7 separate regions of the Homo sapiens genome follow, and regions 1, 2, 4, 5, 6 and 7 are each linked to region 3. The links come from fine-mapping of genetic effects on plasma protein levels. Region 3 holds a variant in brackets. A gene starts in each other region. All regions are shown on their reverse strands. Distances are from middle to middle. Region 1 holds the start of ITPR1 (inositol 1,4,5-trisphosphate receptor type 1). Region 2 holds the start of PPP1R12A (protein phosphatase 1 regulatory subunit 12A). Region 3 overlaps SERPINE2 (serpin family E member 2). Region 4 holds the start of UXS1 (UDP-glucuronate decarboxylase 1). Region 5 holds the start of TFPI2 (tissue factor pathway inhibitor 2). Region 6 holds the start of PPP1R12B (protein phosphatase 1 regulatory subunit 12B). Region 7 holds the start of LYSMD3 (LysM domain containing 3).

Evidence for each region. A credible set is the group of variants that fine-mapping cannot tell apart. PIP is the posterior inclusion probability: the model's chance that the variant is causal. The UK Biobank Pharma Proteomics Project read protein levels with antibody pairs (Olink). The fine-mapping took linkage between variants from a reference panel, not from the people measured, so its PIPs are less certain.
Region 1: it holds the start of ITPR1, and the variant in region 3 is the best candidate, but not a certain one, in a credible set for the plasma level of the ITPR1 protein (UK Biobank, PIP 0.54).
Region 2: PPP1R12A starts here. The variant in region 3 is the best candidate, but not a certain one, in a credible set for the plasma level of the PPP1R12A protein (UK Biobank, PIP 0.71).
Region 4: it holds the start of UXS1, and the variant in region 3 is the best candidate, but not a certain one, in a credible set for the plasma level of the UXS1 protein (UK Biobank, PIP 0.62).
Region 5: it holds the start of TFPI2, and the variant in region 3 is the best candidate, but not a certain one, in a credible set for the plasma level of the TFPI2 protein (UK Biobank, PIP 0.79).
Region 6: PPP1R12B starts here. The variant in region 3 is the best candidate, but not a certain one, in a credible set for the plasma level of the PPP1R12B protein (UK Biobank, PIP 0.53).
Region 7: LYSMD3 starts here. The variant in region 3 is the best candidate, but not a certain one, in a credible set for the plasma level of the LYSMD3 protein (UK Biobank, PIP 0.79).

What each region holds. Positions count from the first base shown.
Region 1 is chr3:4,491,684-4,495,736 of GRCh38, reverse strand. It overlaps ITPR1 (inositol 1,4,5-trisphosphate receptor type 1), which reads right to left and starts at 2,389. Exons shown (of 62, transcript NM_001378452.1): 1 at 2,132-2,389; 2 at 1,231-1,306. It overlaps ITPR1-DT (ITPR1 divergent transcript), which reads left to right and starts at 2,574. Exons shown (of 2, transcript NR_108075.1): 1 at 2,574-2,953. RefSeq lists silencers at 458-752, 2,051-2,320.
Region 2 is chr12:79,934,502-79,938,558 of GRCh38, reverse strand. PPP1R12A (protein phosphatase 1 regulatory subunit 12A) reads left to right here and starts at 3,462. Exons shown (of 25, transcript NM_002480.3): 1 at 3,462-3,864. The coding sequence starts at 3,628. It overlaps PPP1R12A-AS1 (PPP1R12A antisense RNA 1), which reads right to left and starts at 3,278. Exons shown (of 2, transcript NR_146535.1): 1 at 3,005-3,278. RefSeq lists enhancers at 2,947-3,512, 3,236-3,530, 3,577-3,876, 3,513-4,057 and a silencer at 3,957-4,046.
Region 3 is chr2:224,014,147-224,018,211 of GRCh38, reverse strand. All of the region lies in intron 1 of SERPINE2 (serpin family E member 2), which reads left to right. All of the region lies in intron 1 of LOC124907990 (a long non-coding RNA gene), which reads right to left. Among named protein-coding and RNA genes, the nearest start is that of SERPINE2, 23 kb to the left of the region's middle. RefSeq lists an enhancer at 2,625-3,124. The variant A/G (reference allele first, on the strand shown) is at 2,431.
Region 4 is chr2:106,192,186-106,196,250 of GRCh38, reverse strand. It overlaps UXS1 (UDP-glucuronate decarboxylase 1), which reads left to right and starts at 1,950. Exons shown (of 15, transcript NM_001253875.2): 1 at 1,950-2,103. The coding sequence starts at 2,010. RefSeq lists a silencer at 1,868-2,477 and an enhancer at 2,808-2,857.
Region 5 is chr7:93,888,628-93,892,692 of GRCh38, reverse strand. It overlaps TFPI2 (tissue factor pathway inhibitor 2), which reads left to right and starts at 1,940. Exons shown (of 5, transcript NM_006528.4): 1 at 1,940-2,102; 2 at 2,374-2,556; 3 at 3,470-3,658. The coding sequence starts at 2,015. TFPI2-DT (TFPI2 divergent transcript) reads right to left here and starts at 1,799. Exons shown (of 2, transcript NR_134235.1): 1 at 1,614-1,799.
Region 6 is chr1:202,346,799-202,350,863 of GRCh38, reverse strand. PPP1R12B (protein phosphatase 1 regulatory subunit 12B) reads right to left here and starts at 2,165. Exons shown (of 24, transcript NM_002481.4): 1 at 1,722-2,165. The coding sequence starts at 2,012. RefSeq lists enhancers at 1,897-2,206, 1,878-2,418.
Region 7 is chr5:90,527,926-90,531,990 of GRCh38, reverse strand. It overlaps LYSMD3 (LysM domain containing 3), which reads left to right and starts at 2,407. Exons shown (of 3, transcript NM_198273.2): 1 at 2,407-2,543. RefSeq lists enhancers at 1,751-2,010, 2,636-3,136 and a silencer at 2,121-2,370.

The DNA.
Region 1 (4,053 bases), not on the chromosome of region 3:
CTGCACCTCAGTTTCTTCACCTGCATCTGACGCACAGGGTTTCTGAGATACATGGCTCTGGACCTGGCTTACAAGTACTTAATGTGTCCATCTTATTATTTTTAGCAACCAGTTAGAAAAGAGTCTGTGGACCAGTTTTTCCTTGCTGTACAGCTAATTCTGAAAAGGGGAACTGGGCCTAATCCTTGGCTCTATGAGCACCCACACAGCCATGTGAGTCAACAGAACTCCAAGAAGAAACTAGAGTTCTCACATCCAAATGCTTCTCACTCCGCCAGTACTCCTGAGGATCTTATCAACAGGAAACAAAAGCACTATACCACTATAATGAAGTGTCTGACTTTTATTTTCTCATTAGAAAAGCCCAAAGATTGTAGCCCAGGGAACAGCTAAATATTTAGAATGTTAAAAAAGTTATTAAGACCCAGCCACCCACCCCCACCTACCTCTGTTACCCTGTTATTTACCATGTTCCTGAACATTTCAGGAGAAAAAACTCCTGATAGCCAAATCTGCAGCAATAGTGATGTACGTGCACCCGTTGAAACCTCCCACTCTTCAAATGCAGTCTGACCATTTTGGGGAAAAAATAGGAACTGTTGTGTTTACAGATAAATGCTGCTCTCAGCTCATATTCCACCACGGGCCCCAAAACAACAGGGACCTGCCAGATTCCTTGACACTCAGGTGGCTTGAGTCAAGGGCTGGATGCTACCACCTTAAGCTTCAATAACTCACTTCCCTTTTTAAAGTTCTAATTCTTTCAACTTGCAGCAACCACTTTCATTTCTTGCAATCCAACCTACTCTGATTAAGCACACGTTCAAAATTAGAAAAGAGTGACTATTTCTTGAAGGAGAGAGGCAGTTAATACTGCTTACACATTTTGGCATATGAAATGCACTGTATCCTTCAGAATTTAAATCATCAGCATGCTTTTCAGACCGGCAATGGGCCGCCGTTTTATTGCTCCATTTAATGGCCTTTTCCCCTCCTCTCTCATAAACTTTCAGGCTCCTTCAATTCTCAGCTACTTCCAAGAAACGGACTGTCCACTGGACCTCTGCTCCCAAAAGCCCTCACCAAAGGCAGAGGCAAATTTTGAAGACTGAGCCACGGAGTTTCTTTTTCTTTCTTACTCCCCACCTCCTTGGCGGTTTAGATAGAACTTAAAATAGGCTTAGGACAAAAACTCATTATTGACTACAGCACTCAGGCTTCCACACTCACCTGACCTGGGTCAGGCACTCTGTTGCCAAAGCAAGCCCAGCGAGGGGTGCAAATCCTGCTCCTCTGTAGTCAGCTCCTAAATATTTAGAAAGAAAGAAGACTGAGTACCAGACCGCGGAAGATGAGCTCTAACAGAAATGCTCCAAATTACAAGTTTCCACCTTCTTTAGCCTCCTTCACTGGGGACAGCCCCCCCGCCCCCAAACTTGGTAGGCAGGTTGGTGGGATCGCTTGGGCGAAGATTCCAGGTAACTACGCTTACTTATTTCCAGGATGTAACTGACAATTGAGACTAGGCACGCACAAACTTCGAACGTGCGGGAGGCTGGAACTAAGGGAAGTGTTTGGCAGATCCCAAAGCACTTGTTTCCCGGCGAGAAGGCCAAGTATCCGAAGCCCGCATCCTCATTGGACATGAGCTTCGTCCACACTTCATCCCTCACCGCTTCTCCGGTTTTCTTCCGTTTTTAAAAACCCTCCCCACGGGGGGCCCCTACACATGCATTATTCTCCCAACCACGGAGCGCAAGAGAGGGATACATTTTTAGAAAGATTATTTCCTTGAGCAGACTCACATATGACACCCCCACAACCTCTCTTCAAAAAAAAAAAAAAAAAAAGAACTATTTCCTGCAGCTGCAGCAACAGTTTCCAACTTGGGGGAATGCCACATCAGACCAGAATGGGGAGCCCCCAAAGCCACGCACTAGAGTAGAGGATATTTGTTTTTTAAGCTTCAAATGAGCTCCCCCCAAAACAACTGCCCGCAGTAAAGGAACCCCCAAATGCATGCCAAGTGCATGCACATCCATCAAGATCTCCCCGAGAGCGGGGCAAAAACTTCTGCGCCCGGGGAGCCAGTGCCAACTCCCCGCGCCCTCTGCCCGGCCCCAGCCGCTACCTTGGTGCCCGGGGAGCCACGCCGGTTTGGGGGAGCAGGGCGAGGAGAGGGGTTAGCAGCCGCTGGGTAATCCCATGTCCGCGAAGAGGGAGCTCGTTCCGTTAGGATGGAAGCGGAACACCCACACCTCCTCTCGGCGTGCGCTTTCTCTCTCTCCACCCCCTGCCTCCTCCTCCACCACCACCTCCTCCTCCTCCTCTCCTCCCACCCCAGCGAGCTTGAGGAAACGCTTCAGCAGCACATCCACATGGTTACTGCACTTTAAAGCGGCTCCGGGTGGCTTATATAGGCCGGGAAGCTCCCTGGGCAATGTAGTCCAAGTAGCGGGTCGTGGCGGCGCCTGAGGCTGCGGGGAGGGACTACAAGTCCCAGAATCCCCTGGGCGCCCGGGCTGGGCCCTAAATAGACGCGTGCGGGGACAGGGGAGGGGCGTCCTGCGAGGCTTTCAGGCTGCTGAGCCTGTTCCTTGGCTGGGGTCGGTAGGGCTTGGAGCCAGCCGTTCAAAGTCACCCCTGGGAAGCGCCCGCAACCCTTGGGGACGCCTCTCCTCCGGCTGCCCCCCTTCCCTGGAATCCAGGTGTCACTGGGGCCGGGGAGGGGCTAGGAGCTCGGATTTCTGCTTTGGGAAGTTTTTACAAGCCCACCCTCCCCCTGCCTTGGTTCCCCGAGCCAAGAATTTCAGAAATCCGGGGCACAAAAACGCCAGTGTTTGCGGTCAAGGATTAAAGGCGCGAGGTGTCTTTATTTAATCTGCTCCGCCCTGCTCGGGTTTGCACGAGAAACCAAGCCTGGGAGCGACGGTCCACGCAAGCGGAGACACAGGCAAGTCGCGTGAGAGCACTTTTCTGAGCCCGAGTTGCTTGTCTTTTATCGCCCGTGAGGAGGTAAAGAAAGGCAGACCTCTCCGGTGCACAAATAAAGGAGCCGTGTTGTGACTTGCCGGCTCTGAGATTGGGAGGCAGAAAATAAATACAAACCGCGACCTCAGTCCTGACCGTACCTCTAGCAGCCCCTCTGCTCCTGGGAGCTGTAAATGCTTAAGTAAATAAACCGCAAACCAGAAAAATAAGGGCTTAGGAAAGAGCCGCTCACACAGAGATGCGCATCCAGGCGGGGCGCTCTCCAAGAGCTCCGAATGGGGCAAGGTGGGTTTCACCCGCTGCCAAGTAATGCCTGGGCTCCCGGGCTACACGCTGCTTAGGGCTCCGGCTTTTGCAAGGAGGGGAAGAGCTAAGCCCGGAGGCAGTCAGCCGACTGCCCTGTCTTGCCTCAAATGACGTATATTCATTCCTCAAACGTTTCCTGAGTGTTTACTAGGTGCCAGGCGCTGGGGCATAGTGGTGAGCCAAACGCATTATAGCATCCCAGACAGGCACTTCCTGACGCCGCCTAAAGATCTGTTATAACAATAGTAATAATAATGATAATAATCAATGGGGAGGCTGATTTTATTGAGCCCAGACCACATGCAGTTTTCATGCGTCATGCTATTGAGTTTTACCAACTGTAGGTATATTTATTATATCTATTTGGCAGGTGCACAATCCAGGGCTCAGAGAAATCAGGTAACTTCCCAAATGACCCCTCGAGTTAAGTGGTACAGCCTGGACTCCCGTTCCAGACTCTACGTGTATGAAACCCTTGTCTTTGGGGAAATCCACCGCCATTGCCTTAAATAGCCTCTCTCCCCATTTAGGAGCAGCCTCTGAGCCCTTGGGCAAGTCATTTTCATCTCTTTGCCCCAGTTTTGCCATCTGAAGGAAATTCTTATTAGAATATGTCTACTTTTTAGCAGGATTCCTTAATATAAAATCGAGTCTCATGAAACTTTAGGAACAAATTAGAGGAGAATCATAGCTAATAGTTATTACTGACATAATAATGCCAAAACGAATCATAATTATTGACACTTATTGGGTGAA
Region 2 (4,057 bases), not on the chromosome of region 3:
TCAGCCTCCCGAGTAGCTGAGATTACAGGCACGTGCCACCACGCCCAGCTAATTTTTGTATTTTTAGTAGAGACGGGGGTTTTGCCATGTTGGCCAGGCTGGTCTCGAACTACTAACCTCAGGTGATCTGCCCACGTGGGCCTCCCAAAGCCCTGGGATTACAGGCATGAGCCACCGTGCCCAGCCTTTTCTTCAGGTTCTTAAATAAAACATTGGAAAGAAATTATTATGCAATGGAAGAGAGTTTGGCCCAGGTGTAGAATACAGGAGACAGAAACAAGGTCCTTGTTGACTGTTCTATTCTCAAGTGTATAAATGTAAATTAGTATCTCAGGTTTAAATTAGGGATAAAGAGAACATAGATATATCAAAGTATTTATTAATATCTTATGTACATTTTTAACAAAGAGATTATAATAGCAGAAACAAATCTAAGCTGTGCATGTCAGCATTTCAAATATGTTTATAATTTAAATTAAGTTGATCATAATTAGCAAGCAAATTAATGGTAAGGAATGTCAGTAGTGTGATTAAACTTTGAAAAAGATATACACAGATCTCATTCTGACAATCTTGTGCATGTAATAAATAAAACCCCCAGCCAGGTACAGTGGCTCAAGCCTGTAATCCCAACACTTTAAGAAGCCAAGGCAGAGGATCACTTGAGCCCAGGAGTTTGAGACCAGCCTGGACAACATAGGTAGACCCCATCTTTACAAAACTTAAAAAATAAATTAGCTAAGCCTGGTGGTGCACGCGCCTGTAGTCTCAGCTACTTGGGAGGCTGAGATCATGCCTCTGCACTGCAGCCTGAGCGATAGAGTGAGACCCTGTCTCAGAAACAAAAACCTCCAATATGATTGATTTGGTGCAGCCAAAAATATATTTTTATATATACATATATGCAAATTAGTAAGTATAGTTTTATTTGTACTTCTATTTTAAGGCTTAATTTGCTTTAAAGGAGCTAAAATGTATCCTCACATCCCAATCTGTTTAGAAGCCATTAGGAAGTGAAAATATTTGCATTTTTTCCATTTGTTCTGCTTAGACAAATATGTAATAAAAGCATGTGTGTGTGTGTGTGTGTCTTTTTTTTTTTTTTTTGGTAAAGATAGGGTCTAGCTCTGTCGCTCAGGTTGTAGTGCAGAGAGCTCACTGCAGCCTCGAACTCCTGGGCAGAGTTCGCCTCAGCCTCTCAAAGTGATAGGATTACAGGTGTGAGCCACTGTGCTGGGACTGTGTGTGTCAATAAAAAATTTTGCTTGTTCTAGAATTAACCCAAGGTCTTCAGTACCATTAATTCACTAACAACAATTTAAAAAAAATCCTCCCTAAAGACAAAGTAGGTGGCAGTTTCAGAGTACTTTCAATATTAACATAGAGCATCTTGACCCTTAGAGCCACGAAAGAAGAAAAACTAAATTCAGTGAAATTTGCACATGATAGCAGCCCTCCTTGGTTGTTTTTTCCCTGACAGCTTCTGGGAACTGAATGAACTTAATTATGTTTTATTAATAAACTATTATTAATTTTGCATCCTGAAATAAGTGCTTGAATCAGGAATAGCATACTTCCCACTAAATTCCTTTTGCCTGAATGAAATCTTCAGATTCCCATCTATACTGCAAGGGCACTTTAAGAGCTACCACATAGGCCATAACGTTCTTGGAAAACAGGATATGCTGTCAGTTGCCTAGGTAGAGACAGGAGCTGACAAGGCAATCCTCAAGTTCCTTTCTTTTATTCTGAGAGCTGTATTCTGTGGATAGGGATTTTGTATTTTAGTGCTAACAATGTTTTTCAGTACCTAACACCATGAGTATTCAAAGGTCTGATGTTATCTTTAATGTATGTAATGAACATACAATGGTATATCTTATGAATATTACATTCATTTTCTATTCCTACAACGTTTTCAGAGGAAATATTTTTACCCTGACCTGGATTCTATCGCTATCCTAATAACTGTGGTTCAGAAAATTGTCTCACAGGCAGACAGTTTCCTAATCACGTTTTACTCAATTATTTTATTTCTCAATATGATAGGCTGTGAAGTAGTCCACTGGAAAAGGCATCATGCTGAGAGTAAGAAAAGCTTATTTGTTCACTGCTCTATCTCCAGCACCTAGAACAATGCCTGACCCAGAACAGGTGCATAGTATTTGCTGAGTGAATTCTAATCCTACTTCTGGGTAAAATTAAGTAAATTAATTAGTTCTTGAGGGACTCTGTCTAGATGACCCCTAAACTTCCATGGTAAGGTTTTGTGGTTTTTATCTTGGCTTTTCTAAATGCTCTAAAAATAGTAGTGGATGGTAACAATGCAGTGTTCAGTAAAATCAATTGGTGGAGATTGTAGATAGATGGCTCATAAGACATCAGTATTACAAATCCTATGTGTGTGCGCGTGTGGTCATACAAGGCAAAGTTAAAGTCTTTTTTTTATGACGATGATAAATTAGTCTTGTTTGGGCGACTGAACTCAAGAGGTGGTTCAAATAAATGTCATATTTTTCATTGTATCTTCAGTGCCTAGTACAGTTACTGGCTCATAGTAGGTATTCAATAAATAGTGGTTGAATTAATTGCCTTCCTTAACGTTCCGTTTAAATGCTAGACGCAGCTAGGTCTTTACCCCTCCTTAGAAAGAGATGGAGCTGTAACCAGAAATCCCTTAAAAGGTAAGGACCAGTAATCAGGCTGAGCTAAGCTCATGGGTAGTACGAGACAGGCTTAAAGCACTGAAGGAAGAAAGAAGAGAACCCAAGCGTGAGAGAAAGCAAAACAAAACAAGTAAAGAGAGGAAGAAAAACATTTCTAAAGTGGGGGTTGGCAGGAAGCCACAGCAATTACAGCAGGTCAACCCTTGTCAATAGGTGGTCACCTCAAGAACTTACCATTAAAACCCTCGGCCACACAGACCCCACTTTTAAAAGGTTATTAATTCTGACATGCCCAAGTTCATCTGAGTTCCTTAGAAAGATCAACCAGCAGCACCTACTTCACGACCTATCCTCCATTCCATTCAAATAACGCGGCCAATAGGAAAATCCTCCGCCCTGAGCCAACGACTCGGCGTAGCTGAGACAGCACGGGAGGCAGATCTGCCCTGTAGAGCCTTGCGGTTCCACTGCTGGCCTCCGGATTCCCGGGAGCCCCCAGCCCGACAGGACAACCTTCCTTCCCCGCTTCCTCCTTTCCAGGTCTGTCCCAGCCCCCGCTGCCTGGGCCACACCCGCTTCCCTCTGGTGGCCCAGCCACCACCGCCGCAGTTCGCGGGAGCGCTCTTCCTGGGGCGGGCACAGGCCCAGGGCGCATGCGCACTGGTCGAAGGGCGCCTCCCAGTCCGGATCTCGCGAAGTTACGTTAGATTGGCCGCCGGTGACGGGTGGCCGTGCTGGGGGCGGGAGGGCTTCTGTGGTAGGAAGGGAGGTCCGCTCGGCCGGGTGCGCCGCCCCAGTGCTCTGTGGGATACTGGAAGTCTCGAGCGTCGGCTCCGGGTTCCCAGCCCTCCTCTGGCCCGCACTCATAGAAACATTCACACACCCCCTGCCTCCCCTCTCTTCCCTCTCCGCCTCCCCCTTCCCCCCCTCGCGATAAGAAGACCCGGCGGCAGGAGAGGGGATGAAGATGGCGGACGCGAAGCAGAAGCGGAACGAGCAGCTGAAACGCTGGATCGGCTCCGAGACGGACCTCGAGCCTCCGGTGGTGAAGCGCCAGAAGACCAAGGTGAAGTTCGACGATGGCGCCGTCTTCCTGGCTGCTTGCTCCAGCGGCGACACGGACGAGGTCCTCAAGCTGCTGCACCGCGGCGCCGACATCAATTACGCCAATGTGGACGGACTCACTGCCCTGCACCAGGTCTGTGCGCCCCGCCGCCGGCTCTCCTGACCGTGAGGGTTCTCGTCGGCCTCCTGCTCGGGCCTGCCCTCAGTTCTCCACCTCTTGAGGCTGGGGGCGGCGGGAGACTCCCTGCTGCGGGGTGAGGGGGCGGTTTCCCCAGAGGGCGGGAGGGAGAGCTGGTGGAAGGGAGGGCGCTGGGCTTGAGGCCCCC
Region 3 (4,065 bases):
ATCGCCAGAGCCTGACGCCCATTTCCTCAGTCGCCAGTGACCATCAATCATTTCCTAAGCCCATCATCAGGGCTGTCGATGGAGTCACAGGGCTGAGCTGCTTCCCCTGGGGAGGGCAAGGCCTCTCAAGTCACCTTCCCTGAGGACCTGTGACCAGATGTGAAAGTCTGATAAAGTCACATACTAGAGACCCTTGACTCCCTCTAATAACAAAGAAATAAAGGAAATTGAAAAAAGACCACAAGTCTTAAAGGCAGCTTTAAACATGTGTTTTGATTTTTAGAAATTATAATATTTGAACATTTTGCCCTTGAGGAAATGTTAAGCTGGACTGTAGTATAGGCCTTCAAAGCCTGAAGAGAGGACCCCAGGCCTTCGTGATGATGGTGGTAAATGGGGTAACAGCAGAGGCCAGCTTCGAGTGGGGCCTCAAGAACTGTCCTAAGAACCTGAGACATAGTACTTTTTAAAATCCTTATAACAACTCTTAAAGTAAGAACTACTATTACACCGATTTTCAGATGGAGGAGCTGAGGCACACTGAAGGCTAGCACTTGTCAAAAGTCATACAGATAATTGGCAGTGGAGGTGACATTTGAACTTGGGTGGTTTGTCTTAGGAACCTGCAGGGGCCATGTATAGTGTCCTAAATCCTTTTGTTAATTTCTTATAGAATAAGAATTAATACTGTTATAAGTCAAATAATTATGAGAATGTACAATTATGCAAGCACCCTAAAACTGTAGCTATTCTTTTTGAAAGGACCAAAAATATTACATTTTTGTGTGATTGTACATTTGCAGTACAGGGAAAAAGTAAGAAATAAAAAGATCTGTCTTAAGGTACATTGGCATTTGTTTGCTGACTAAAATTTTACAGTAGGGTTTTTTTGTTGTTATTTTGAGATAGTTATATAGATTCACATGCAGTCGTAAAAAAAAAAAAGTAGTAATTCAGAGAGCTCTCGTGTACCCTTTACCTGGTTTCCTGCAAAGGCATTATCTTGCATAACTGTAGTACAGTACCACAACCAGGAAACTGACATCACACAATCCACCCACCCTATTCAGATTTCACCAGGTTTACAGGTACTCACTGGGGTGTGTGCATTTACTTCTATGCAGTTTTATCACATGTATGGACTTGTGTGGGCACCACCACAGGCAAGATACAGGACATTTCCACCACAGGGACCCCTCATGCCTCCCTTTTATCGTCACACACATCCCTTTCCCTCTCTTGTTCTCTAACTTCTGGTGACTACTGATCTATTCTCCATCTCTGCACCTTTGTCATTTCAACAATGTTATATACATGGAATTACACACTATGCATCTTTTTGAAATAGGCTTTTCCATTCAGCATAGTTCTTTGAAATCCAACCAAGTTGTTTTGTGTGTCAGTAGTTTATTTCTCTTTATTACTGAGTAGTAGTCTGTGGTGTGGATGTACCACAGTTTAGCCATTCACCTACTGAAGAACATCTGGGATGTTTCCACTTTGGGACTATTAAAAAATAAAGTTGCTGTGAACATTGGTATACAGGTTTTTATGTGAAATGATTTTCATTTCTCTCTAATAAATGTCCAGCATTGCTGGATTATACAGTTAAGTGCATGTTTAGTTTTGTAAGAAACGGCCAAACTTACATTAAAAAAAAATAAATAATAAACAGAAACTACCAAACTATTTTTTTTTTTTTTTTGAGACGGACTTTCGCTCTTGTCGCCCAGGCTGGAGTGCAATAGCACAACCTCGGCTCACTGCAACCTCCATCTCCCGGGTTCAAGCGATTCTCCTGCTTCAGCCTCCCGAGTAGCTGGGATTATAGGCACCTGCCGCGACGACTGACTAATTTTTATATTTTTAGTAGAGACAGGGTTTCACCATGTTAGTGAGGCTGGTCTTGAACTCATGACCTCGGGCTCAGGTGATCCGCCTGTCTCGGCCTCCCAAAGTGCTGGGATTACAGGCGTGAGCCACTGCACCTGACCTACCAAACTGTTTTCTAGAGCGGCTGTGCCATTTTATATTCCCACCAGCAATGTGTGAGTGATCCAGTTTCTCTGCATCCTCACCAGCAATTGGTGTTGTCACTAGTATTAGCCATTCATCTGGACATATAGTGACATCTCATTGTGGTTTTAAAAATTTGGATTTCCCCAGTGGCTAATGATGTTGAACATCTTTTAATGGACGTATTTACCATTTATACATCCTCTTTAATGGAATATCTATCCATGTCTTTTATTTCCTAATCCGATTTTTTTTTACAGTTGGGGTTTAAGAGTTTTCTGTGTAGTCTAGATACTAGTCCCTTGACAGATACGTGATTGGAGAATATTTTCTCCTAGTCTCTTCATCATCTTTGCAGGATCTTTTGCAGAGTAAAACTTTTCATTTTGATGAGGTCCAATTGATCAGTTTTTC[A/G]GTTTATCAGTTTTTCGTTTTATGAAACTCAGGCTTTTAATGTCAACTTAGGGTTTTGATTCCTGCCTGTTGTCATGCGCAGTGCCGGGTGGTGAGAAAGAGAGCCATGGAACAAGATAGACACTGGAGTGTGAATGATTCTTCCAGTTTCTGTCCGGTTGGGTTCTGCAGTATGTCTTGATGAGCTGCCTATTTGTTGGAGTCATGGACACAGAGTTGCCCTTGTCTTGCAAAGGCTGTAAGGTGATGATGGTATGAAAGGAAAAATATTTCCAGAATAATCCATGGTACCTCCCAACACAAGGTTTGTTTGCACTTGAGAGCTTCTGTCTGGAATACTCTTCCTTGCTTCCATCTCTCCGCCCCTTTGTCCAGTCACTTCCAGTCCATCCTCCAATGTCTGCCCATGTGGCCCTTCCCAGGAGCACTTCCCTGGCCACTGCCTCTCACCCTGGCCCAGGTGTGCCTCTGCTTCCATTCTTACACACTCTCCTCGATGTCAGAGCATTTGTAAAGTAAATACGTGAAAATGAAAGTAAATATCAAGTAATAAGACGATTTGATTAAGGTCTGTTTCCCCTCTAGACCAGGCTTCCCCAACCTTGGCACTACTGACATTTCGCTGGATAATTCTTTGTTGCAGGCGGCTGTCTTGTGCATTGTGGGTGCTGCTCAGCAGCACCCCTGGCCTCCCCCCACCTAGCAGATGCCACGGCACCACCCTCCCTGGCCCCCACCTACCAGATGCCATGGCACCACCCTCCCTGGCCCCCACCTAGTGGTGAAAACCAAAAAAAATGTCTTCAGATAGTGCCAAATGCTCCCTGAGCGACAGAGTCACCCAGGTGGAGAACCATGCCTTGAGACTCTGAGAGGTGGGAGGGCAGGTACCAAGCCCCTTTTCATGCCTATTCTCTCTCTAGCATCCCAGCGCCAGGCCTGGCACTGTGGTGCTTCATTAATATTTGTAGGATAAATTAAGGGATAAACCAACTTAATAGGGGACACTTGTTTACACGGCAGCCTTGGAAATGCTACCCTGACTTCAAAGGAACAAAGTGGGTTTTGTTGGGCACTTGAGACCCAGGAGAATCTAGAGTCTTCTGTATTCAGGTGGATATGGGTTTCCTTATGCAGTACCCAAGACAGCCCCCACACTGAAGAGTTATGTCAGTAGTGCCGAGATAAAGAAAGCCTGCTCTAGGGCACAAGAGAACACACATTCCCACTCTCGCCCCAGGCGCCACACAATGATCCCTCTGACTTTCCCTCTGACTTTCCTTAGTTTAGAATCAGAGTCTCCGTCTGAAGTCCTAGACTGTTTCTCATCAATGCAATGACTGCATTGATACCAATTTACCTAGTGGTTCTCCCTGGAATTTTTCTTTTTTTCTTTTTCTTTTTTTTTGAGACAGTGTCTTGATTGTTGCTCAGGCTGGAGTGCAGTGGCATGATCTTGGCTCACTTCAACCTCTGCCTCCTCGGTTCTAGTGATTCCCCTGCCTCAGCCTCTTGAGCAGCTGGGATAACAGGTGTGCGCCACCATGCCTGGCTAATTTTTGTATTTTTAGTAGAGATGGGGTTTCACTGTGTTAGCCAGGATGGTCTCGATCTCCTGACCTCAAGTGACCTACC
Region 4 (4,065 bases), 120 Mb after region 3:
GACACCAGTGTCCTGGGACACCAACCGCCTTCTGGGTGGCAATAATGACAGCAGCAGCTATTTCAACTGCAGCTGCTAACGGTATTTCCATATACTTAATCCCACAGGGCAGAAGTTGGCAGTAGTGTCCAGCAGCAGAAAAAAATGCTAACTGGGAATGCTGGGCTTAAGGAGTTTAGTACAGAAATGGCAAATACCCCACAATTTCTGACCTTTGTCGTCTAATAGGATACCTATCAACTAAACCCTACCTAAAACCTAAAATGCTTGAAATCCGCCTAGAAGCTTCAGTCTGATTTTGCCCATAGGTCAAATGTTAATGAACTATTATTTTCTTCCATTTCTGCTCCTCATCTTTAATCTAAAAACCACGGAGTCATGGAATGGGAAAGGCCTAGAGCTCCACTTGCTCTAGTTCTCTTTTCAAAAACCATAGCCAGAAAGCCACGAGGAAATGCAGACTTACAAACAAAATCGATTTGTTCCAAACTGGTGTGCTCTGGGGGCCTGGCCCCTCTGGGAACCCAGGACTCAGGCTCCCATGCCAGGTGTTTTGTCACTTGGCAGCCTCCTTGGACACGTCAGAGTCAGGGAGCTGGGCTTCTCGAAAGAAGTCCACTCCATCTATGGGCAGCATGCATAGCAGGGGCAATCCGCCTTAGCAAACCGCTCAGTGTTTCCTCCTAGTCAGGGATTCTCAACAGGTTTAGGGGAGGGGTAGGATGGAGGTAGGTTTTATCAGAATCACATCATTTGCACTATAGTTTGAAAGATGTAACATAAAGCTGCTGCTTTAGTACCAGCTGCCATATTTCCTTTTCTTGGAGGTTTCTAATAAATCTAAAGGAGGGTGATCTATTAAGTTTTGCAAAATGGCCTGAGGTTCCAAGAGGTAGGAGAGCCGCTGCTGACTTCAACTTCTCCGTATAGCTGAAGATGACCTCTTGAAGCCTGCAGATCCCAAATCCGGGATCTCTCTTAATGTGGCATCACACACATCTGTGTGTACCTGTCTTTTTTTCCTCCATGGGACCAGCTCTCTCCAGATCCAATGACAAGCTTCCGATTATCTGTGGATCTTCTGATACATCTCCTTGCTTGTAATCATCATTCAGTAAATGCTTTTTAAACACAGGTACCTCCTATGCAATCAGTACAGCACTCATAAAACAGATATACTCAACAAAAAGATTGAATGAAACACACACGACAACATGGTCAGGGTTTTTCTCTAGGCAGAGACAGCGCAATTTCATCTTTTCTTTTCCAAGTCTATCCTAAATTAATATACTTAGCACTGCTTTTTAAAATAATAATAAAAGACTATTATTAAAACAAAGGCACCCCAGTTGATCATAGCCAAGGAAAAAAAACGCAGCCAGTTTTTACTTCGGCAAGGTTTAGGGGATTTATCATTTTCGCTGCCGATATTCTAACTAAAAAAAGCCAACTAAACAGCCCAGAGAACGAGGCAACTTTCTGAGGCAGGCATTCAACTTCTAAGGCTCGGCCAAGTTTAGCAAATAAGTTTCGTTTCACTGCAACACCGGAATGCCCACCGCGTGCCCCCCTCCGGGCGGGGCTCGGAAACTGGCCACTGCAGTCGTGCCCTTGGGTTGGGGACGCACCTCAGCGAAACGAATCCAGCCGCACCTCCCGGCTGGCACCCGCGCGCTTTAACTCAGGGAAAACAGACCGGAACGCGCATGCGCCGCGGCGCGCCGCACCGCCCACCAGCCCTCCAGGTCACATTCTTCGAAAACCAAGGCAAGAAAGGCGGCAACTGCGCCTGCGGGTAGAGAAGCCGGAGGGGCGGGGGCGGAGCCGGAGGAAGGGGGTGGAGGCGCGCCTGCGCGGTGATCCCGCCAGCAGGAAGCAGGCGCGCGGGGGCGGGGGCGCGCGGCGGCAGGAGGCGGGGCTCTCGGGGCCGCTGCCGCCGCCGCCGCCGCGCATTGTGCAGCAGGCGGGCCCCCGCGCGGTAGGGCCCTGGACCCGCGCGGCTCCCGGGGATGGTGAGCAAGGCGCTGCTGCGCCTCGTGTCTGCCGTCAACCGCAGGAGGATGAAGCTGCTGCTGGGCATCGCCTTGCTGGCCTACGTCGCCTGTGAGTGCGCGCCCGCTGCCAGCTGGGGAGCCCCATTCATTCCCCGGCGCCGCGGTGGGCCGGGCGGCGGTGGTTCGGGGCCCCGAGGCGGCCCTGCAGCCCCGCGTTGCTCCCCGCCCCGGGCGGGGCCGGCGCTTTCTGCTCCCACCCCTTTCCACTCTTGCAGCAAAGCGGGCCAACTTGGGCGCACACCCCCTACCGCTTAGGCCCGGGCGCGGACCCCGGGCGGAGGGGCCCCTAGCAGTCCTCGGGCGGCCCCAGGTCTCTGCCTCCTGCCCGGGCGCGGGGGACTCGGCGGCGGCGCTGTCGTCCATGTCGCGCTGGGAGCCGGCGAGGGTCCCGGTCGGGGACTCCGGAGCGTGCCGCGTGGGGATACCCTTGGGGACAGCCGAGGTCGCGCCGCGGTGTCGGTTAAGTCGGATAAAAATACTGTGGCCATTGGCAGAGCCCCCGCTCCGACTGTTTGCTCCTCAGGAAAATTACTCAGCGTTTAACTCTTGGGGAGCCAAGTGTGGGCGGCTCCCCGGCCCGCGGCCGTGCCCAGGTGTCGGGGCGCACCGGCATCCCCATTCTAGGTTTTCCCCCGGGGCTCGGCGGCCGGGCGAAGCAGGCAGGCAGCTGGGTGGCCGGGCAGGGCGTGCCTGCAGCTTCTCTGTGCGCGGGTCCAGTTTCTGTCATCGCTCACAGCATGCTGCCTGGAGACAGGGCAGGAGGGGCACTTCGCAGGCAGGTGGTCGGCCCTCTGCTTGTTAGGGAAGTCAGAAACCGTCCTTTTAAAGATCTATTCGTTGGGAATGTTTTAATTGATGCTATTAATACGTTACCAAGTAGCAAAATTGGACTAGAAATAGCTCCCAGTGTGAGCTGCGTTTGAATGCTAGCCACCCAGACACACACTGAAATGAAATCACCTGCTAACCTGTTGGCGTTACCAAGATCTGATTCCAGAGGTGAGTGGGTACTTCACTTGTCTGAAGTGACTTCAGTTGAGCTCTAGGAAGGCAAGTATGAGTAGATCCAGCCTGTGTGCTACAGCCCAGCTGTTCAGGAGGTGGAGCTGGAAAACCCCAGCAGGACTCCGGGTTGCTAGGGGAGGTTTCAGGCGTCGGATGGGTGTTAGATGTGTGTAGTTTTGCAAGGGAGGAAGAACTAGTCTAAAGTGTGTGTGTGGTCAATCTTGAGTAAGAAAGCTGAGACCCAAGAGGAAAGACCATTTAAAGTTGAATAACTATTATTATGGCAGTAATACTACCTACATTTGTTGAGTGCTTAACTGTGTGAGTCATGATTCTTAGTGCCATTGTCTCAATCATTGAGCAACCCTGGGAAATCGGTACTATAATGATTCCTATTTTAGAGGTGAGGAAGTTAAGGCCAAGAGAGATTAGGAAATTTATGGATGATCACACAGATAGTAAGAGAAGGAGGGCCAAAATTTGAACCCAGAAAGGCCTGGGAGCAGGAGCTAGAACCCAGGTCTTCGAACAGCAGTTTCAATGTTTATTTTGGGGGTATTCTATAGTCGCTGCAAGGGTTTAGAATTAATAAAGTAGGGGATTTATGGAGCCATGGGAAGTTTTTTTTTTTTTTTTGAGACGGAGTCTCGCTCTGTTCAGCCCAGGCTGGAGTGCAGGGGCGCGATCTCGGCTCACTGCACGCTCCACCTCCCGGGTTCACGCCATTCTCCTGCCTCAGCCTCCCAAGTAACTGGGACTACAGGCACCCGCCACCACGCCCGGCTAATTTTTTGTATTTTTAGTAGAGACGGGGTTTCACCATGTTAGCCAGGATGGTCTCGATCTCCTGACCTCGTGATCCGCCTGCCTCGGCCTCCCAAAGTGCTGGGATTACAGGCGTAAGCCACCGCTCCCAGCAGGAAAGTTTTTTAACCAATCATTCATCTGACCAGGAAATCTTACCAAGTCCTTACTGTTGTCCCTGAATTTGGCACTAGGAGACACC
Region 5 (4,065 bases), not on the chromosome of region 3:
TCAGGCTGGTTTTCCTAGGACTGTGACCTTGTAACATGACATCAGAATGACTGAAAACTGGCACAAGGATATAATGTGCAAAATACCTCAGATTATTAACCCACTTTGAGCAAGTGTGTCCTATACTTTTCAGGGCTTCCTGAAAACTTGAAAGAGAACTTCTGTAAACTACCCCCAGTATCCTCAGAAGTCAAGAATAATTATTTACTTGAGAATGTTGAATACAACAAGAGAAAAGGGGAAGGGAAGACAAGTATATTAAAATGTCTTCAAAAATATCTTTAATATTTTATGTAAAATTTCACTGTAGGTAATTGTTTGTATTAAAAAAAAAAGTGGATCACAAGCTAATATGTCAAAGGAACAGGGAACTTTAATGGATGCACTGACATTAGGAAATGTGTGGGAATACACTGATCTGGTCAAATCTTCAGAACTCCCCAAGGCTATCTCTCTGGGCTGCTATGGTTCTTCTCCAAAAACATAGATACATACAAAAACATAGCTTCATACATGCTTGGTTGGGGTGTAAAATGGTACAATCATCTTGAAAAAATCCTTTGGCAGTGTCTAACATTTCTAAGTATTTTATCCAAGAGTAATAAAAATTGCAGGTCCACACAAAGCAGCTTTTTTCATAAGAGCCCCCAAACAAACTAGAAACAACACAAATTCCAGTAATAAGACATTTGTGATATATTAGAATATTACTCAATGATTTAAAGGAACAGACTATTGATACACACAGCAACATATTTATACATTGTGGGATATTCATACGTTTTGGTAAATTCATACCTTGGACTACGCAGGAATTAAAAGAAACAGACTATTGATGCAGTGACCTGGGCGTATCTCAAAAACAGGAAGTGTGAGAAAGAAATACTACACAGTGAATACTTTATAATTCCGTTTATATGAAATTCAAGAATAGGCAAATCTAATCTATGGTAATCGAAATGAGAAGAGTGTTTGCCCCTGGCCTAAGGATGGAAGGATTGATTTAGGAAAAAGTCTGCAGGAGCTTTCTGGAGTGATGGAAATGTTCTAACTCTTTTTTTTTTCTTCTTCTTCTTCTTTTTCTTCGTTTCGAGACGGAGTTCCACTCTGCCGCCCAGACTGGAGTGCAGTGGCGCCATCTGGGCTCACTGCAGCCTCCGCCTCCTGGGTTCAAGCCATTCTCCTGCCTCAGCCTCCCGAGGGGCTGGGACTACAGGTGCCCGCCACCACGCCCGGCTAATTTTTTGTGTTTTTAATAGAGACGGGGTTTCGCCATGTTGGCCAGGCTAGTCTCGAACTCCTGATTTCAGGTGATCCACCCGCCTTGGCCTCCCAAAGTGCTGGGATTACAGGCGCGAGCTACCGCGCCCAGCCAAAATGTTCTAATTCTTTATTGGTGGCTACACAGTTGTCAAAATTTATCAAACTGTCCACCTACGATATATTATAAGCCTGTATTAAATGTAAATTAGAACTCGATTGAAATCTGTGTGTATAAATATAAATATACACTTATTTACATTTCTAATCTAATCTGAAGGTCCATTGCAACGAATCCCGCTCCGCTCTGACCCAAGAACTCCGCACTTTCTCTCCACCAGCCTTTCAAATACCTGAACTTCATGCCTTCAAGAGGTGGATTCCGGCTTCTTTACAGCGCAATCACTAGCAGGTCATTTCCGTCTAGCTTGCAGATTTCCCATTACTGACACAAACGCTCCCTCAGGGCGTCCCCGTCTGGACTACAGGAGAAAGTTTGGGAGGCAGGTTCAACTTTTCAACTTGGCGGGGAATTCCTCTCCCTCTTACACAGTTTGCAGCGCGGGGGCGGCGGGGTGACAGTCCCCGTGCATGAATCAGCCACCCCTCAGGCTCCGCCCCGGCGGGGGTCGGCCGGACGCTCGCCCCGCATAAAGCGGGCACCCGGGCCGCCTGGAGCAGAAAGCCGCGCACCTCCTCCCGCCAGGCGCTTTCTCGGACGCCTTGCCCAGCGGGCCGCCCGACCCCCTGCACCATGGACCCCGCTCGCCCCCTGGGGCTGTCGATTCTGCTGCTTTTCCTGACGGAGGCTGCACTGGGCGATGCTGCTCAGGAGCCAACAGGTATCTGGCCGCTCCAGGAGCTTCTCTCCCCAACCGGCGGAGAGGGCGCAGCGGGCCATGGGGCCCCGTGTAGGCGCCCTCCAAGCCTCGCTTTCTCCAGGTCCCTGCCGCGCGCTCCGCTGGCAGGGGGGACTCGCTCCCAAGTTTGCACTTTCTCTGCAGAGGCCCCTCCGCTCGGAAGGGGACAGAACTCCCCGGGATGTTCTTTCCTCCTAGGAGCTACGCCTGACCACTTTCCCTCTCTTTTGCTCTCCTTCTGCCCCTTCTTCAGGAAATAACGCGGAGATCTGTCTCCTGCCCCTAGACTACGGACCCTGCCGGGCCCTACTTCTCCGTTACTACTACGACAGGTACACGCAGAGCTGCCGCCAGTTCCTGTACGGGGGCTGCGAGGGCAACGCCAACAATTTCTACACCTGGGAGGCTTGCGACGATGCTTGCTGGAGGATAGAAAGTAAGTGCCCTGCGCGCACCCAGGACTCTCGCGCTCCTTGCGCCGGCGGCTGGTAGCAGCTTCGCCAGTTTCCCACGTCTCGCTTTCTACAGGAAGTTTTAGCCTGGGTTTTCTCAAGTGTTAAGCAAACCTCATGGTTTTCAGTTTCTTAAAAGTAATCACAAATTTACAACCACTAACACATTTCCTGTCTCCCAACTGACATTGATCATAATTCAGTGCCTGTGCGGACTCAGGGAAAGATTTGTTCCCTCACCATGGGGTATAATAAATGCAAGAGAATAACGTGTTAGGTACAACGTAAGTGCTTCTCTGTATTTTTCATTAATTCCAAACCTATGATTTTTATCTCTCCTGGAGTACATCATTTCCTTCTGTCGATTATCCATCAATCTGAAATATTTTTAGTGGATTTTATTATTGAAGTGTGACTTAGCTCATTATATAACTCTACTTTTGTCCCGATACCCAAACATGTGTTGGATTAGTTGCGGGACATGGTGGAGATTCATAATACTGTTATATTTTAATTTATTTTTAATTTTTAAATTATATCGGTTAAGGCCTGTAAGAGAACATGGGGCTTTTCCATTCAAGGAACTGAGCCAGGGGAAAATGCGTATTCATGTGAATAAGCTTTGATTCACTGCATATGTACAATCAGAGAACACCCAGAGAAAACAGAGAGTCTTTCTACTGAACTTGAAAGATACATCACAGCTGAGTCAGCTCTGAATACACTGTTAGAAAAAAAAAAAGTAAATATCTGGATTCATGGGAGTATTCTGGGTATTTACTATCCCAACACTAATACAACTTCTCTCCCCCCACAAAATGTTGCTGAAAATACAGTGATGGTTTAATAAGAAGGCTACTTTTGACTAACATTGTTCTATTACCCTCCTTTTCCTAGAAGTTCCCAAAGTTTGCCGGCTGCAAGTGAGTGTGGACGACCAGTGTGAGGGGTCCACAGAAAAGTATTTCTTTAATCTAAGTTCCATGACATGTGAAAAATTCTTTTCCGGTGGGTGTCACCGGAACCGGATTGAGAACAGGTTTCCAGATGAAGCTACTTGTATGGGCTTCTGCGCACCAAAGAAAAGTAAATACGATTTTTATGGTATTTCTATTTCACTTTTTTGAAAAGACATTTGGGTGGAAAAAACTCAATTTGATGCGAAATTAACATGTGCATTTTCATGATTTCACATTACTTGACAAGTTAGTGACTTGTCAAGTTCTTAGGACTGGAAAGTGACAAAGCCATGATTCAAATTTTTGCTTTCTGCCTCTTCTGATTTGTTGTTTTTGAGACGGACTCTCGCCCTGTTGCCCAGGCTGGAGTGCAGTGGCACAATCTCGGCTCTCTGCAACCTCTGCCTCCCGGGTTCAAGCGATTCTCCTGCCTCAGCCTCCTGAGTAGCTGGGACTACAGGCGCCCGCCACCATGCCCAGCTAATTTTTTTTTTTTTCTTCTTTCTCTTTCTCTTTCTTTCTCTCCTTCCTTCC
Region 6 (4,065 bases), not on the chromosome of region 3:
GGATCTCCTGAGGTCAGGAGTTTGAGACCAGCCTGGTCATCATGGTGAAAGCCCATCTCTACTAAAAATACAAATATTATCTAGGCGTGGTGGCAGGCGCCTGTAATCCCAGCTACTCGGGAGGCTGAGGCAGGAGAATCGCTTGAAACCAAGAGGCAGAGGTTGCAGTGAGCCAAGATCTCGCCATTGCACTCCAGCCTGGGCAACAGAGCGAGACTCTGAATCAAAAAAAAAAAAAGAAAAAGAAAAAGAAAAACAAGAATTCACCTTCCCAAAGAGTTCAGAAATTTAAAGTTTAGAATTTAATGTGGTTCTCTTAGCTTTTATCTCATTTTACATTCAGCTCCTTATTAAGTGAGATAGAGATCTCTGTGACATAAGTCTGAAAAATCCATGCCTATGGGCCACTTCTTTACTTTCTAACTTTGCACAAATAATTTTCCTGAGCTTCAGTTTCCTCATCTGTAAAATGAGAATAACAACACTACCTGCCACACCTACTTCAAAGGATCACTGCTGAAACTCACATGGGGTAAGACATATGAAATCAAACAGCAAAGCACTCTACAAATATTGGTTACTACCTCAGGTGGGGAAATATTATCAGCAGGAAAAAAAAATGGGTACAAAATAGGGTGAAAGAGTTTCTTCTACCTGAAATAGAAGGGTTGCAAACATAGTGAGAAGTAACTTTTTAAGCTATTGGCTAAATATATTTAGGGAAGTGGTCTGATATAAAGTTGAGTTATTATTTAGAAGTAGATTCTCATGCCAATACATTCACTTTGCACAGACGGCAGAAGAAGAAAAATACAAAAGATTAAGAGTGGGTGTCCGGCTCTCAGCTCACCAAAATAACTGATGAAGTTCCATTTGAGGAGAGAGGGGTAGTTAGTCATGGCAGTCAGTAGACAGAGAATATTGCTGCATTAGGTGACAGAAGTAAAGGTGTCGTTACCAAGCACAGATTATCCACAATCCATATAGTATAGCTATACATGGGGCATGGGATTTCTATAGAGCACTTTAGAAAAAAAAATAGAAAAATAGAAAAGCTATTCCATAAGTATCAAACAGAGGTAATTCAGTAACTTAGTTCTCCATAGGAAGCTCTCAGGGAGGTAGCACTGCTGAGAAGGAAGTTAAGATACCTAAAACAACGAGGTCCAGCGTGTTCTAGGAGCTGTAGCCTAGAGGCAACACAAACTGTTTTGAAGTACTACAAATCAACAAAACAAGAGGTGTGGTTTCAGACCTGCTTGTCTTTACCCAGTAAAGGGCTTTACTCTTTAAGTGATATAAGATATTCTATAACGGGGACACACAACAACTGAATTTTCTGAAAGGGCATCAAACAAATGACACTGTGCCTATGAGTGACGCGGTGTGCAGGCACGCCAACCAGACATAAGTGAAGATAACTAATCTACAGGGATAAGACCAGGGACAAAAATCACCAGTAACCATGACAACACAAGTAGGTGGAGGGAAATACAAACACTGACCAAGCAGCGGGGTGACGCTATTCCTAAGACCCTGGGGTCAGAAAAAGACTTGATTAGTGGAGGAAGCTGGCCAAGAATGAAACCGATTAGCCCAAAAGGGCAGTGTCCATGCAGAAGGAGTCGGCGGCAACACTGATACTCCCCATGGGGTGGCTCGCAGGGTCAAAGGCTCATCTGTAGGAGACTGGACGCCTCTAAGACCAAGAAAGGAGTTACCTGGTGCAGGGCTGTCAAGCCGTCCACGTTGACCGTGTTGATATCAGCACCTCTTGCCAGAAGCTTTCTCACCTCGTCGGTGTCCCCGCTAGAGCAGGCGGCCAGAAAGACAGCACCGTCCTCGAAGCGGACCCTGGGGCTCCCGCGCCTGGTCAGCGGCTGCCGCCCCGCGCCTCGTCGCTCCGCAGGCTCCTGCTCTGTCAGCGAGCCCCGCCAGCGCCGAAGCTGCTCTGCCCGCCGCATTCGCGCCGACTCTGCCCGCTTCCCTCCTAGGTGCTCCAGTTCCGCCATTGCTCCGGCCTCGGCAGCTGCTGCCAAAACTACCAACACTAAATTACTGTTGGGGCTCGAGTTGCCGCTGCCGCCTCTCTCAGAGCGCTTCAGCCCGGAGCAGAGGGCGGAGACCCTCGCGCCGCCATCTTTACTCCTCCCGCCAGTAGTACCGCCCGCACGCTCCCTCGGCTTCAATACGCAGGCGCTGCCCGGCCTCGGGTCATCACGGGACTCGTAGTAAGAGGCCTGCCCTAAGTGCACTTGGTGGCCGTAAGGGAACTACAAATCCCTGGATGCATCAGAAAAAAGGCGAGGACCGGCGGCTCTCTCTTTCGCCACGGGACCCAGTGGGGTCACCTTTGCCCTAAAGCTGGAACTGTCTCCTGGACTGGCGTCAGCCTCTTCCTCTGGGCATTTTGGGAGTTGTAGTTTATTCTTGTTATGACTAGTAACTAATCTTATCTCCCTAATTATCACATCAATTCTTTGGAGTGGAAAAAAGGCGGTAATTATTCCTGTTTTCTGGAGGAGAGAACTAAACATTAAGTACCTAAACGACTGGATTCTATATCCTAGTTCTAAGTCTAGGGTTTTATTAACATGTGTATTAATCACGGTAAATGTGAATGAGCGTGGGGAAGAGGAGCATACATACAGATACAGTATTACATGTTTTACATAAATACTGTCAACTTACTCCAGGCCCAGAAAAGATCTTGAAAATGATGCATTCAGATGTAGTGAAAAGAGTTTAAGCTGTGAATTTAAATTGAATTCACAGCCGCAGACAAATTACTTGACTTCTCTTAGCCAGTTTTCTTATGTGTAAAATGGGAATAACATCTCACAGGGTAGTCATGTGGATCAAATGAAATAATACATGCAAGGATGCCTAATACTATCTTTGGCACATATTGGATCCCAATAAATAATTTCTCTTCCTTCTCCCTCCTCCTCCTCCTCTACTCTTTTCATATACCTTAAATTTTTACAAGACAGAATAGATGTCTTCCATGATTTTTATTTCTTTTCTTTTGAGACAGAGTCTCACTCTGTCACCCAGGCTGAGTGCAATGGCGCAATCACGGCTCACTGCAGACTCAACCTCCTGGGCTCAAGCGATCCTCCCACCTCAGTCTCCCCAGTAGCTAGGACTACAGGTGCCCACCACCACACCCACTATTTTTTTATTTTTTTGTAGAGACAAGGTCTCACCATGTTGCCCAGGCTGGTCTGGAACTCTTAGACACAAGCGATCCTCCTGCCTCAGCCTCCCAAAGTGTTGGTATTACAGCCCTGAGCCACTGTACCTGTCCCATGATTTTTTTTTTCAAAGCTAGAGAAAGATACTATCAAGCATACTAAATCATACTAAATTCCTAAGGTAGCAAATAGAACATTTTTATATTCACCAAGACTGGGTTATAAAACATGTATCTGTCCGATTGTTTTGTTTTGTTTTGTTTTGTTTGAGACAGGGTCTCGCTCTGTCACCCAGGCTGGAGGGCAGTGGCATGGTCGTGGATCACTGTAGCCTCAACCTCCCAGGCTGAAGCGATCCTCCCACCTCAGCCCCCCAAGTAGCTGGGACTACAGGCCTGTGTCACTATGCCTGGCTAACTTTTGTATTTTTTGTAGAGACAGGGTTTTGCCATGTTGCTCAGGCTAGTCTTGAGCTCCTGGGCTCAAGTGTTCCACCCACCTCAGTCTCCCAAAGTGTTGGTATTACAGGCATGAGCCACCGCATCCGGCCAGTCCGATTGATTTAATAAGTATAACCTCCAGTGCTCTAGCCCTGAACAAAATACAATTAAATGTGTTACCCATAATGAAAGAGTACATATGCAAATGTTAGATTCTTTAAACGTTTCTGTATGTTTAAAATTTTTCATTTAAAAAATGTTGCAAAATGATTGGGGTATTGTAAAGGGAAACTTTATTATATTCTGTCATGTGAAAATTTGCCTGTTCCTCAATTTCCCCTGAAATGAAGTGGAAATCATACATTAAGGAAACAATTAATTATTGAATTGAAAGCCTCAAATGAAAAGTGACATATAAATGTAAAAAA
Region 7 (4,065 bases), not on the chromosome of region 3:
GGTAGGATGAGGGATGCTTATTTGAAATTTTATTCCATAGAAATAATATCATACCTCCTATTTTTTCTTCCTAAAATAGACTAAAATACATTTTAAAGATCTTTCTACACGCTTCAGTCATTCAAGCTCCATAAGTAAGGGGAATTTGTCTTTTTAAGCACTGTTTTTCTTCAACAGAAACTTATTAGGTAAATGAATGAATAAATCAGCAAATGCCAGATTAACTTCACTCTTCTGAAACCAAGTATAACATTATATTGTTTTAATGTACCGGAAGTATCAGTCAACTACTGATAAACATTTAAAATATTTTCAGATTTTGGCTATTACTGTGCAAACATTCCTGAACATATCTGTTAAATCTTGCACATATGTGTCTGTAAGTAAATCTAAGGTAATTACTTAGCAATGTAATAGTTCAGTCAGTTGCATTTAAAATTTTGATAGATATTGCCTAACAGGTTGCATCAATTTACACTCTCACTTCAGTACAACTTCTACTCTAGGGCAACTCACAAAAACTAAACGTTAGTGACTAAAACACATATTCCTAGAAATGACATATTCTTTCATCTATAGCGTTTTAACAGAAACTGTGTCAGGTGAAATCTTGAAACACTAAAAATCCTTTGGCTCTGCTGAGCACTGGGGACATCCTTTTTCTCAAAGACAAAATGCTTGTTCCTACTGGCCGGCTTTTTGGAACTTGGCCAAAATTCACGCTAACTGCTTCTTTTGTATATTCTAATAATAAAATATAATCCTATTCTTCCATTTTTATAAAAAGTTTAATATTTGCATCCTTGTTAAATACAAATAACTATTCAAGAGCATGCAGATATCTTTGAGAAAGTTATTTATATGAAGGATACAGGTATCGGTCCTATAGAAGTGCTTGAAATCTATCACTTTGGCTCTCACATTAATTCCGCTGTCTATTGACATTAAAATAAGAAAAGTAACCTATAGACAGAAAGAAGGTTGTATTCCCATTAACATTCATGAGGGCTAAGCAGCCGAAGTCCTACATATCAAGCAGGGAATATATCCTTTGTCTGCTGATGAGAGAACGTCTCAGTGATAAATGGTTACAGACAGGGGTGTCATGAGGGCAACAACACACAGAACAATTCAGACAAACTTTTTAAAAAAGTCTTCTCCTGCAGTTTTTTTTTGTGGCGCTGGGAAGCACAGTGCCTATCCCTGCTAATAAAAGAAAACTATTGCAATGCAAAACTCCTAACCTTTGCAGAGGCACTTACCAGAAAACCAAAAACATACTCTTTGAAAAACAATTTAAAACCAAGCTTCAAAGGCTTTCTAATGTATAAATATTCAGACATTCTGAAAAGCACTGCTCTGCACCCTGCACCCCAGCTATTTGTGCCTAAAATGGATATTGTCGTAACAGTTAGCATGGTTGTCAAAGTGCAACGTCTCTAATATCAACACTGAGAGACATCAGACTCATTAAAATGCTTTACATTCATTAATTAGGTTGGTGCAAAAGTAGTTGCGGCTTTTGCCAAAGTCATACATAAATTCAAACACATTATGATACTCATTTAACACATTTGTGATAAAAATCATGTATGAAGTCATGAGTTTATTTAATAAGCTAATATTCCATAGAGTCCAATGGTGACTACCAATGACTCAGTTAATTTTCAAACCAAAATAAGTTAGATTACAATTTGTTGACTCCCTTGACTCCTCGAGCCAGGGAAAACATTTCCTGGGGCCTGACTCTAGGTGGCTCACTTCCCTCACCTAAAAACAGGAAGGGTGAGACAACCCCCTCCAACCCTCGTCCTCGGTCCCCCAAGGATTTCTCTCCAGAATTCTGCCTCTTCTGCAGCAGTCTGGAGTCTTCAGCATGAAAAGGGTAACAAACATGGCGCAATTTTCTGAAACCGTGATGTCAACAGTGTTTTTGAGGTGTCCTTTCCCACCCTAAAGAAAATTCGAGATGCACAGCAAGAAAAAAATGCAAGACAGCTCCCCGACACATCCTGAGCCACGCCTCGTCCTCAGGGTGCACCCGACAGTCTCTGCCAGCGCAGTGTGGACGCTGGACAAAGACGCAGCCAGTAGGTCGCTGGTGGTCGCGGGTTGGATCCGCTGACTTGGCCACCAAATCTTTTCCTCGGGGAGTGAAGCGGCACGGAAGGAGCGGAGTCAAGGGCGGGGCTGGGGATTGGACCCGCCCCCGGGCCCGGGGATTGGACCCGCCCCCGGGCCCCGGAGGAGTCCCTGCGCCTGCGTGCCGGGCGTGGACCTGTGGTTGGACTCCCCCGTTTTGGGCTGCCCTCCGCGTCCTCCCCCGCCCCTTCCCACCTCCGCCCACTTGACGCGATGACGCATCTCAGGTTTGCGGACGTGGCGGCGGCGTACGGCCCGGAAGGCGGAGACGTTGGCGGCAGAGGCGGAGGCGGACGGGGTCAGCCCAAAGCAGAGGCTCGGCCATGAACTTACCCGGGACAGCGGCGGCGGCGGACCTTTTGGCCATCTTCTCGCAGAGTGCTCCCTGCTAACGGGGACAGGTAAAGATGGTGGCAGGAGGTGAGGGTAGCCCGGTCCAGGAGGGCGGGGTTGAGCCCCAGCTGCGTCCTCACGGGAGGCGCTGAGCCTCGGCCACAGGTGTGGTGGGGGCTGCAGGGCCGGGCTCGGCCCGTGTGGCGGACACCCCCGAGACAGGGAAGAACTTCCAGACCAGCCCTGCCAGGCCCTCTTGTCACACTGTCGGGGAAACTGAGGCTCAGAGGAAGGACGCCTACCTGCTGGATTACCTGGGCAGCTAATTTCCCACCCAAACACAGCATTTCTCCCACGACTTTATGTTGGCGTGAAATATTCGCTGACGGCATCTTGTCACATCGTTCAAGTGTCATGCTGTGACAGAAGACTCTGAGACGTAATCTTCGCTGACGATAGCAGGGAAAGAAAAACTTGACGTGTGGAATACAGAGGGAGGAGGTAGTTAAGTTTTAAAAAACAAAATTGTCCCTGGCAGCGGATAGGGTGCCTTTGATTCTGTCCCTTTGCAGCTTTAACTTGTGCCCTGTGACCCTCTTATTGCACCTTGCTTAGTTAAAGAAGGTCAAGGCGAAACACCCAGCAGCCATTCTACAGTACGAAGGTGTTTGGGAAACCGTTTTCAGTTACAGACTGAGCTGAAGAATGCTTTAACACTGTTTTGTGGCCCCTCGTAATCTAGGTAGCACGCAGGCTTGTTCCAAGTTTCTGAAAGGGAGTTCGTGCCTTTTTCCTGCTCTAAGAGAATTAAGAGAGGTGAATAGAATTGAGCCAGATGACTTAAATATTATGTATTTTCTAATCTCTGAGTAGTAGACTGGAGTGATCGCCTGGGTCAGTCTGTTCACTTCGGTTGAAGACACAGCCAGTTCTTGATCATTCAGAATACCCAGATTTGTAACACGATAGTCAGCTGCCTGCATTTCATTATAAAGGGGAGTGGAGAGATAGTGAGACAGGTGAAGTTCTGACCTTTAAATTATATTTAGAAATATATCGTGGAGAGAGGTTGATAGAAACAAGTATCTAAAATGGCTTTGGGGCATTGCTTAGTGATTTTCAGTTAGCTGCACTACTAAGCCAATTTTGAAGTTCTAAGTACAAATTATTAGGGTGAAACTGTCTAACAAGACACATAAGTAGGTCGGTATAGCCAAGTGTAAATTGCTGTATATTAAGTCTTAACTTTTTTGATCATGGATGCCTTTTGAGAATATGAAGCAATGAAAATTCTCCCCAGAAAAATATACATATGTATAAAATTTGCCTGGAATCTACAGGATTCAAAGACATTCCCTAGGTTAAAGACACAAGATTAAAAAAAGACCTGGTTAAATGAGTGGAAATAAAACTGTTATCCTTGGAGGAAAAGATGTGGTCATGACTTCAAAACTGCTTTTGAGATATAAAATGTGATAGTTTTCTTTAGTTTCATAGCTGTCAAGTTAGGAATCCTAGTTCTTGGTAATAATGTAGCACTTCAGAGAACAGTTGAAATAATCTACTTAACATATAGCTATTAGTTATCTG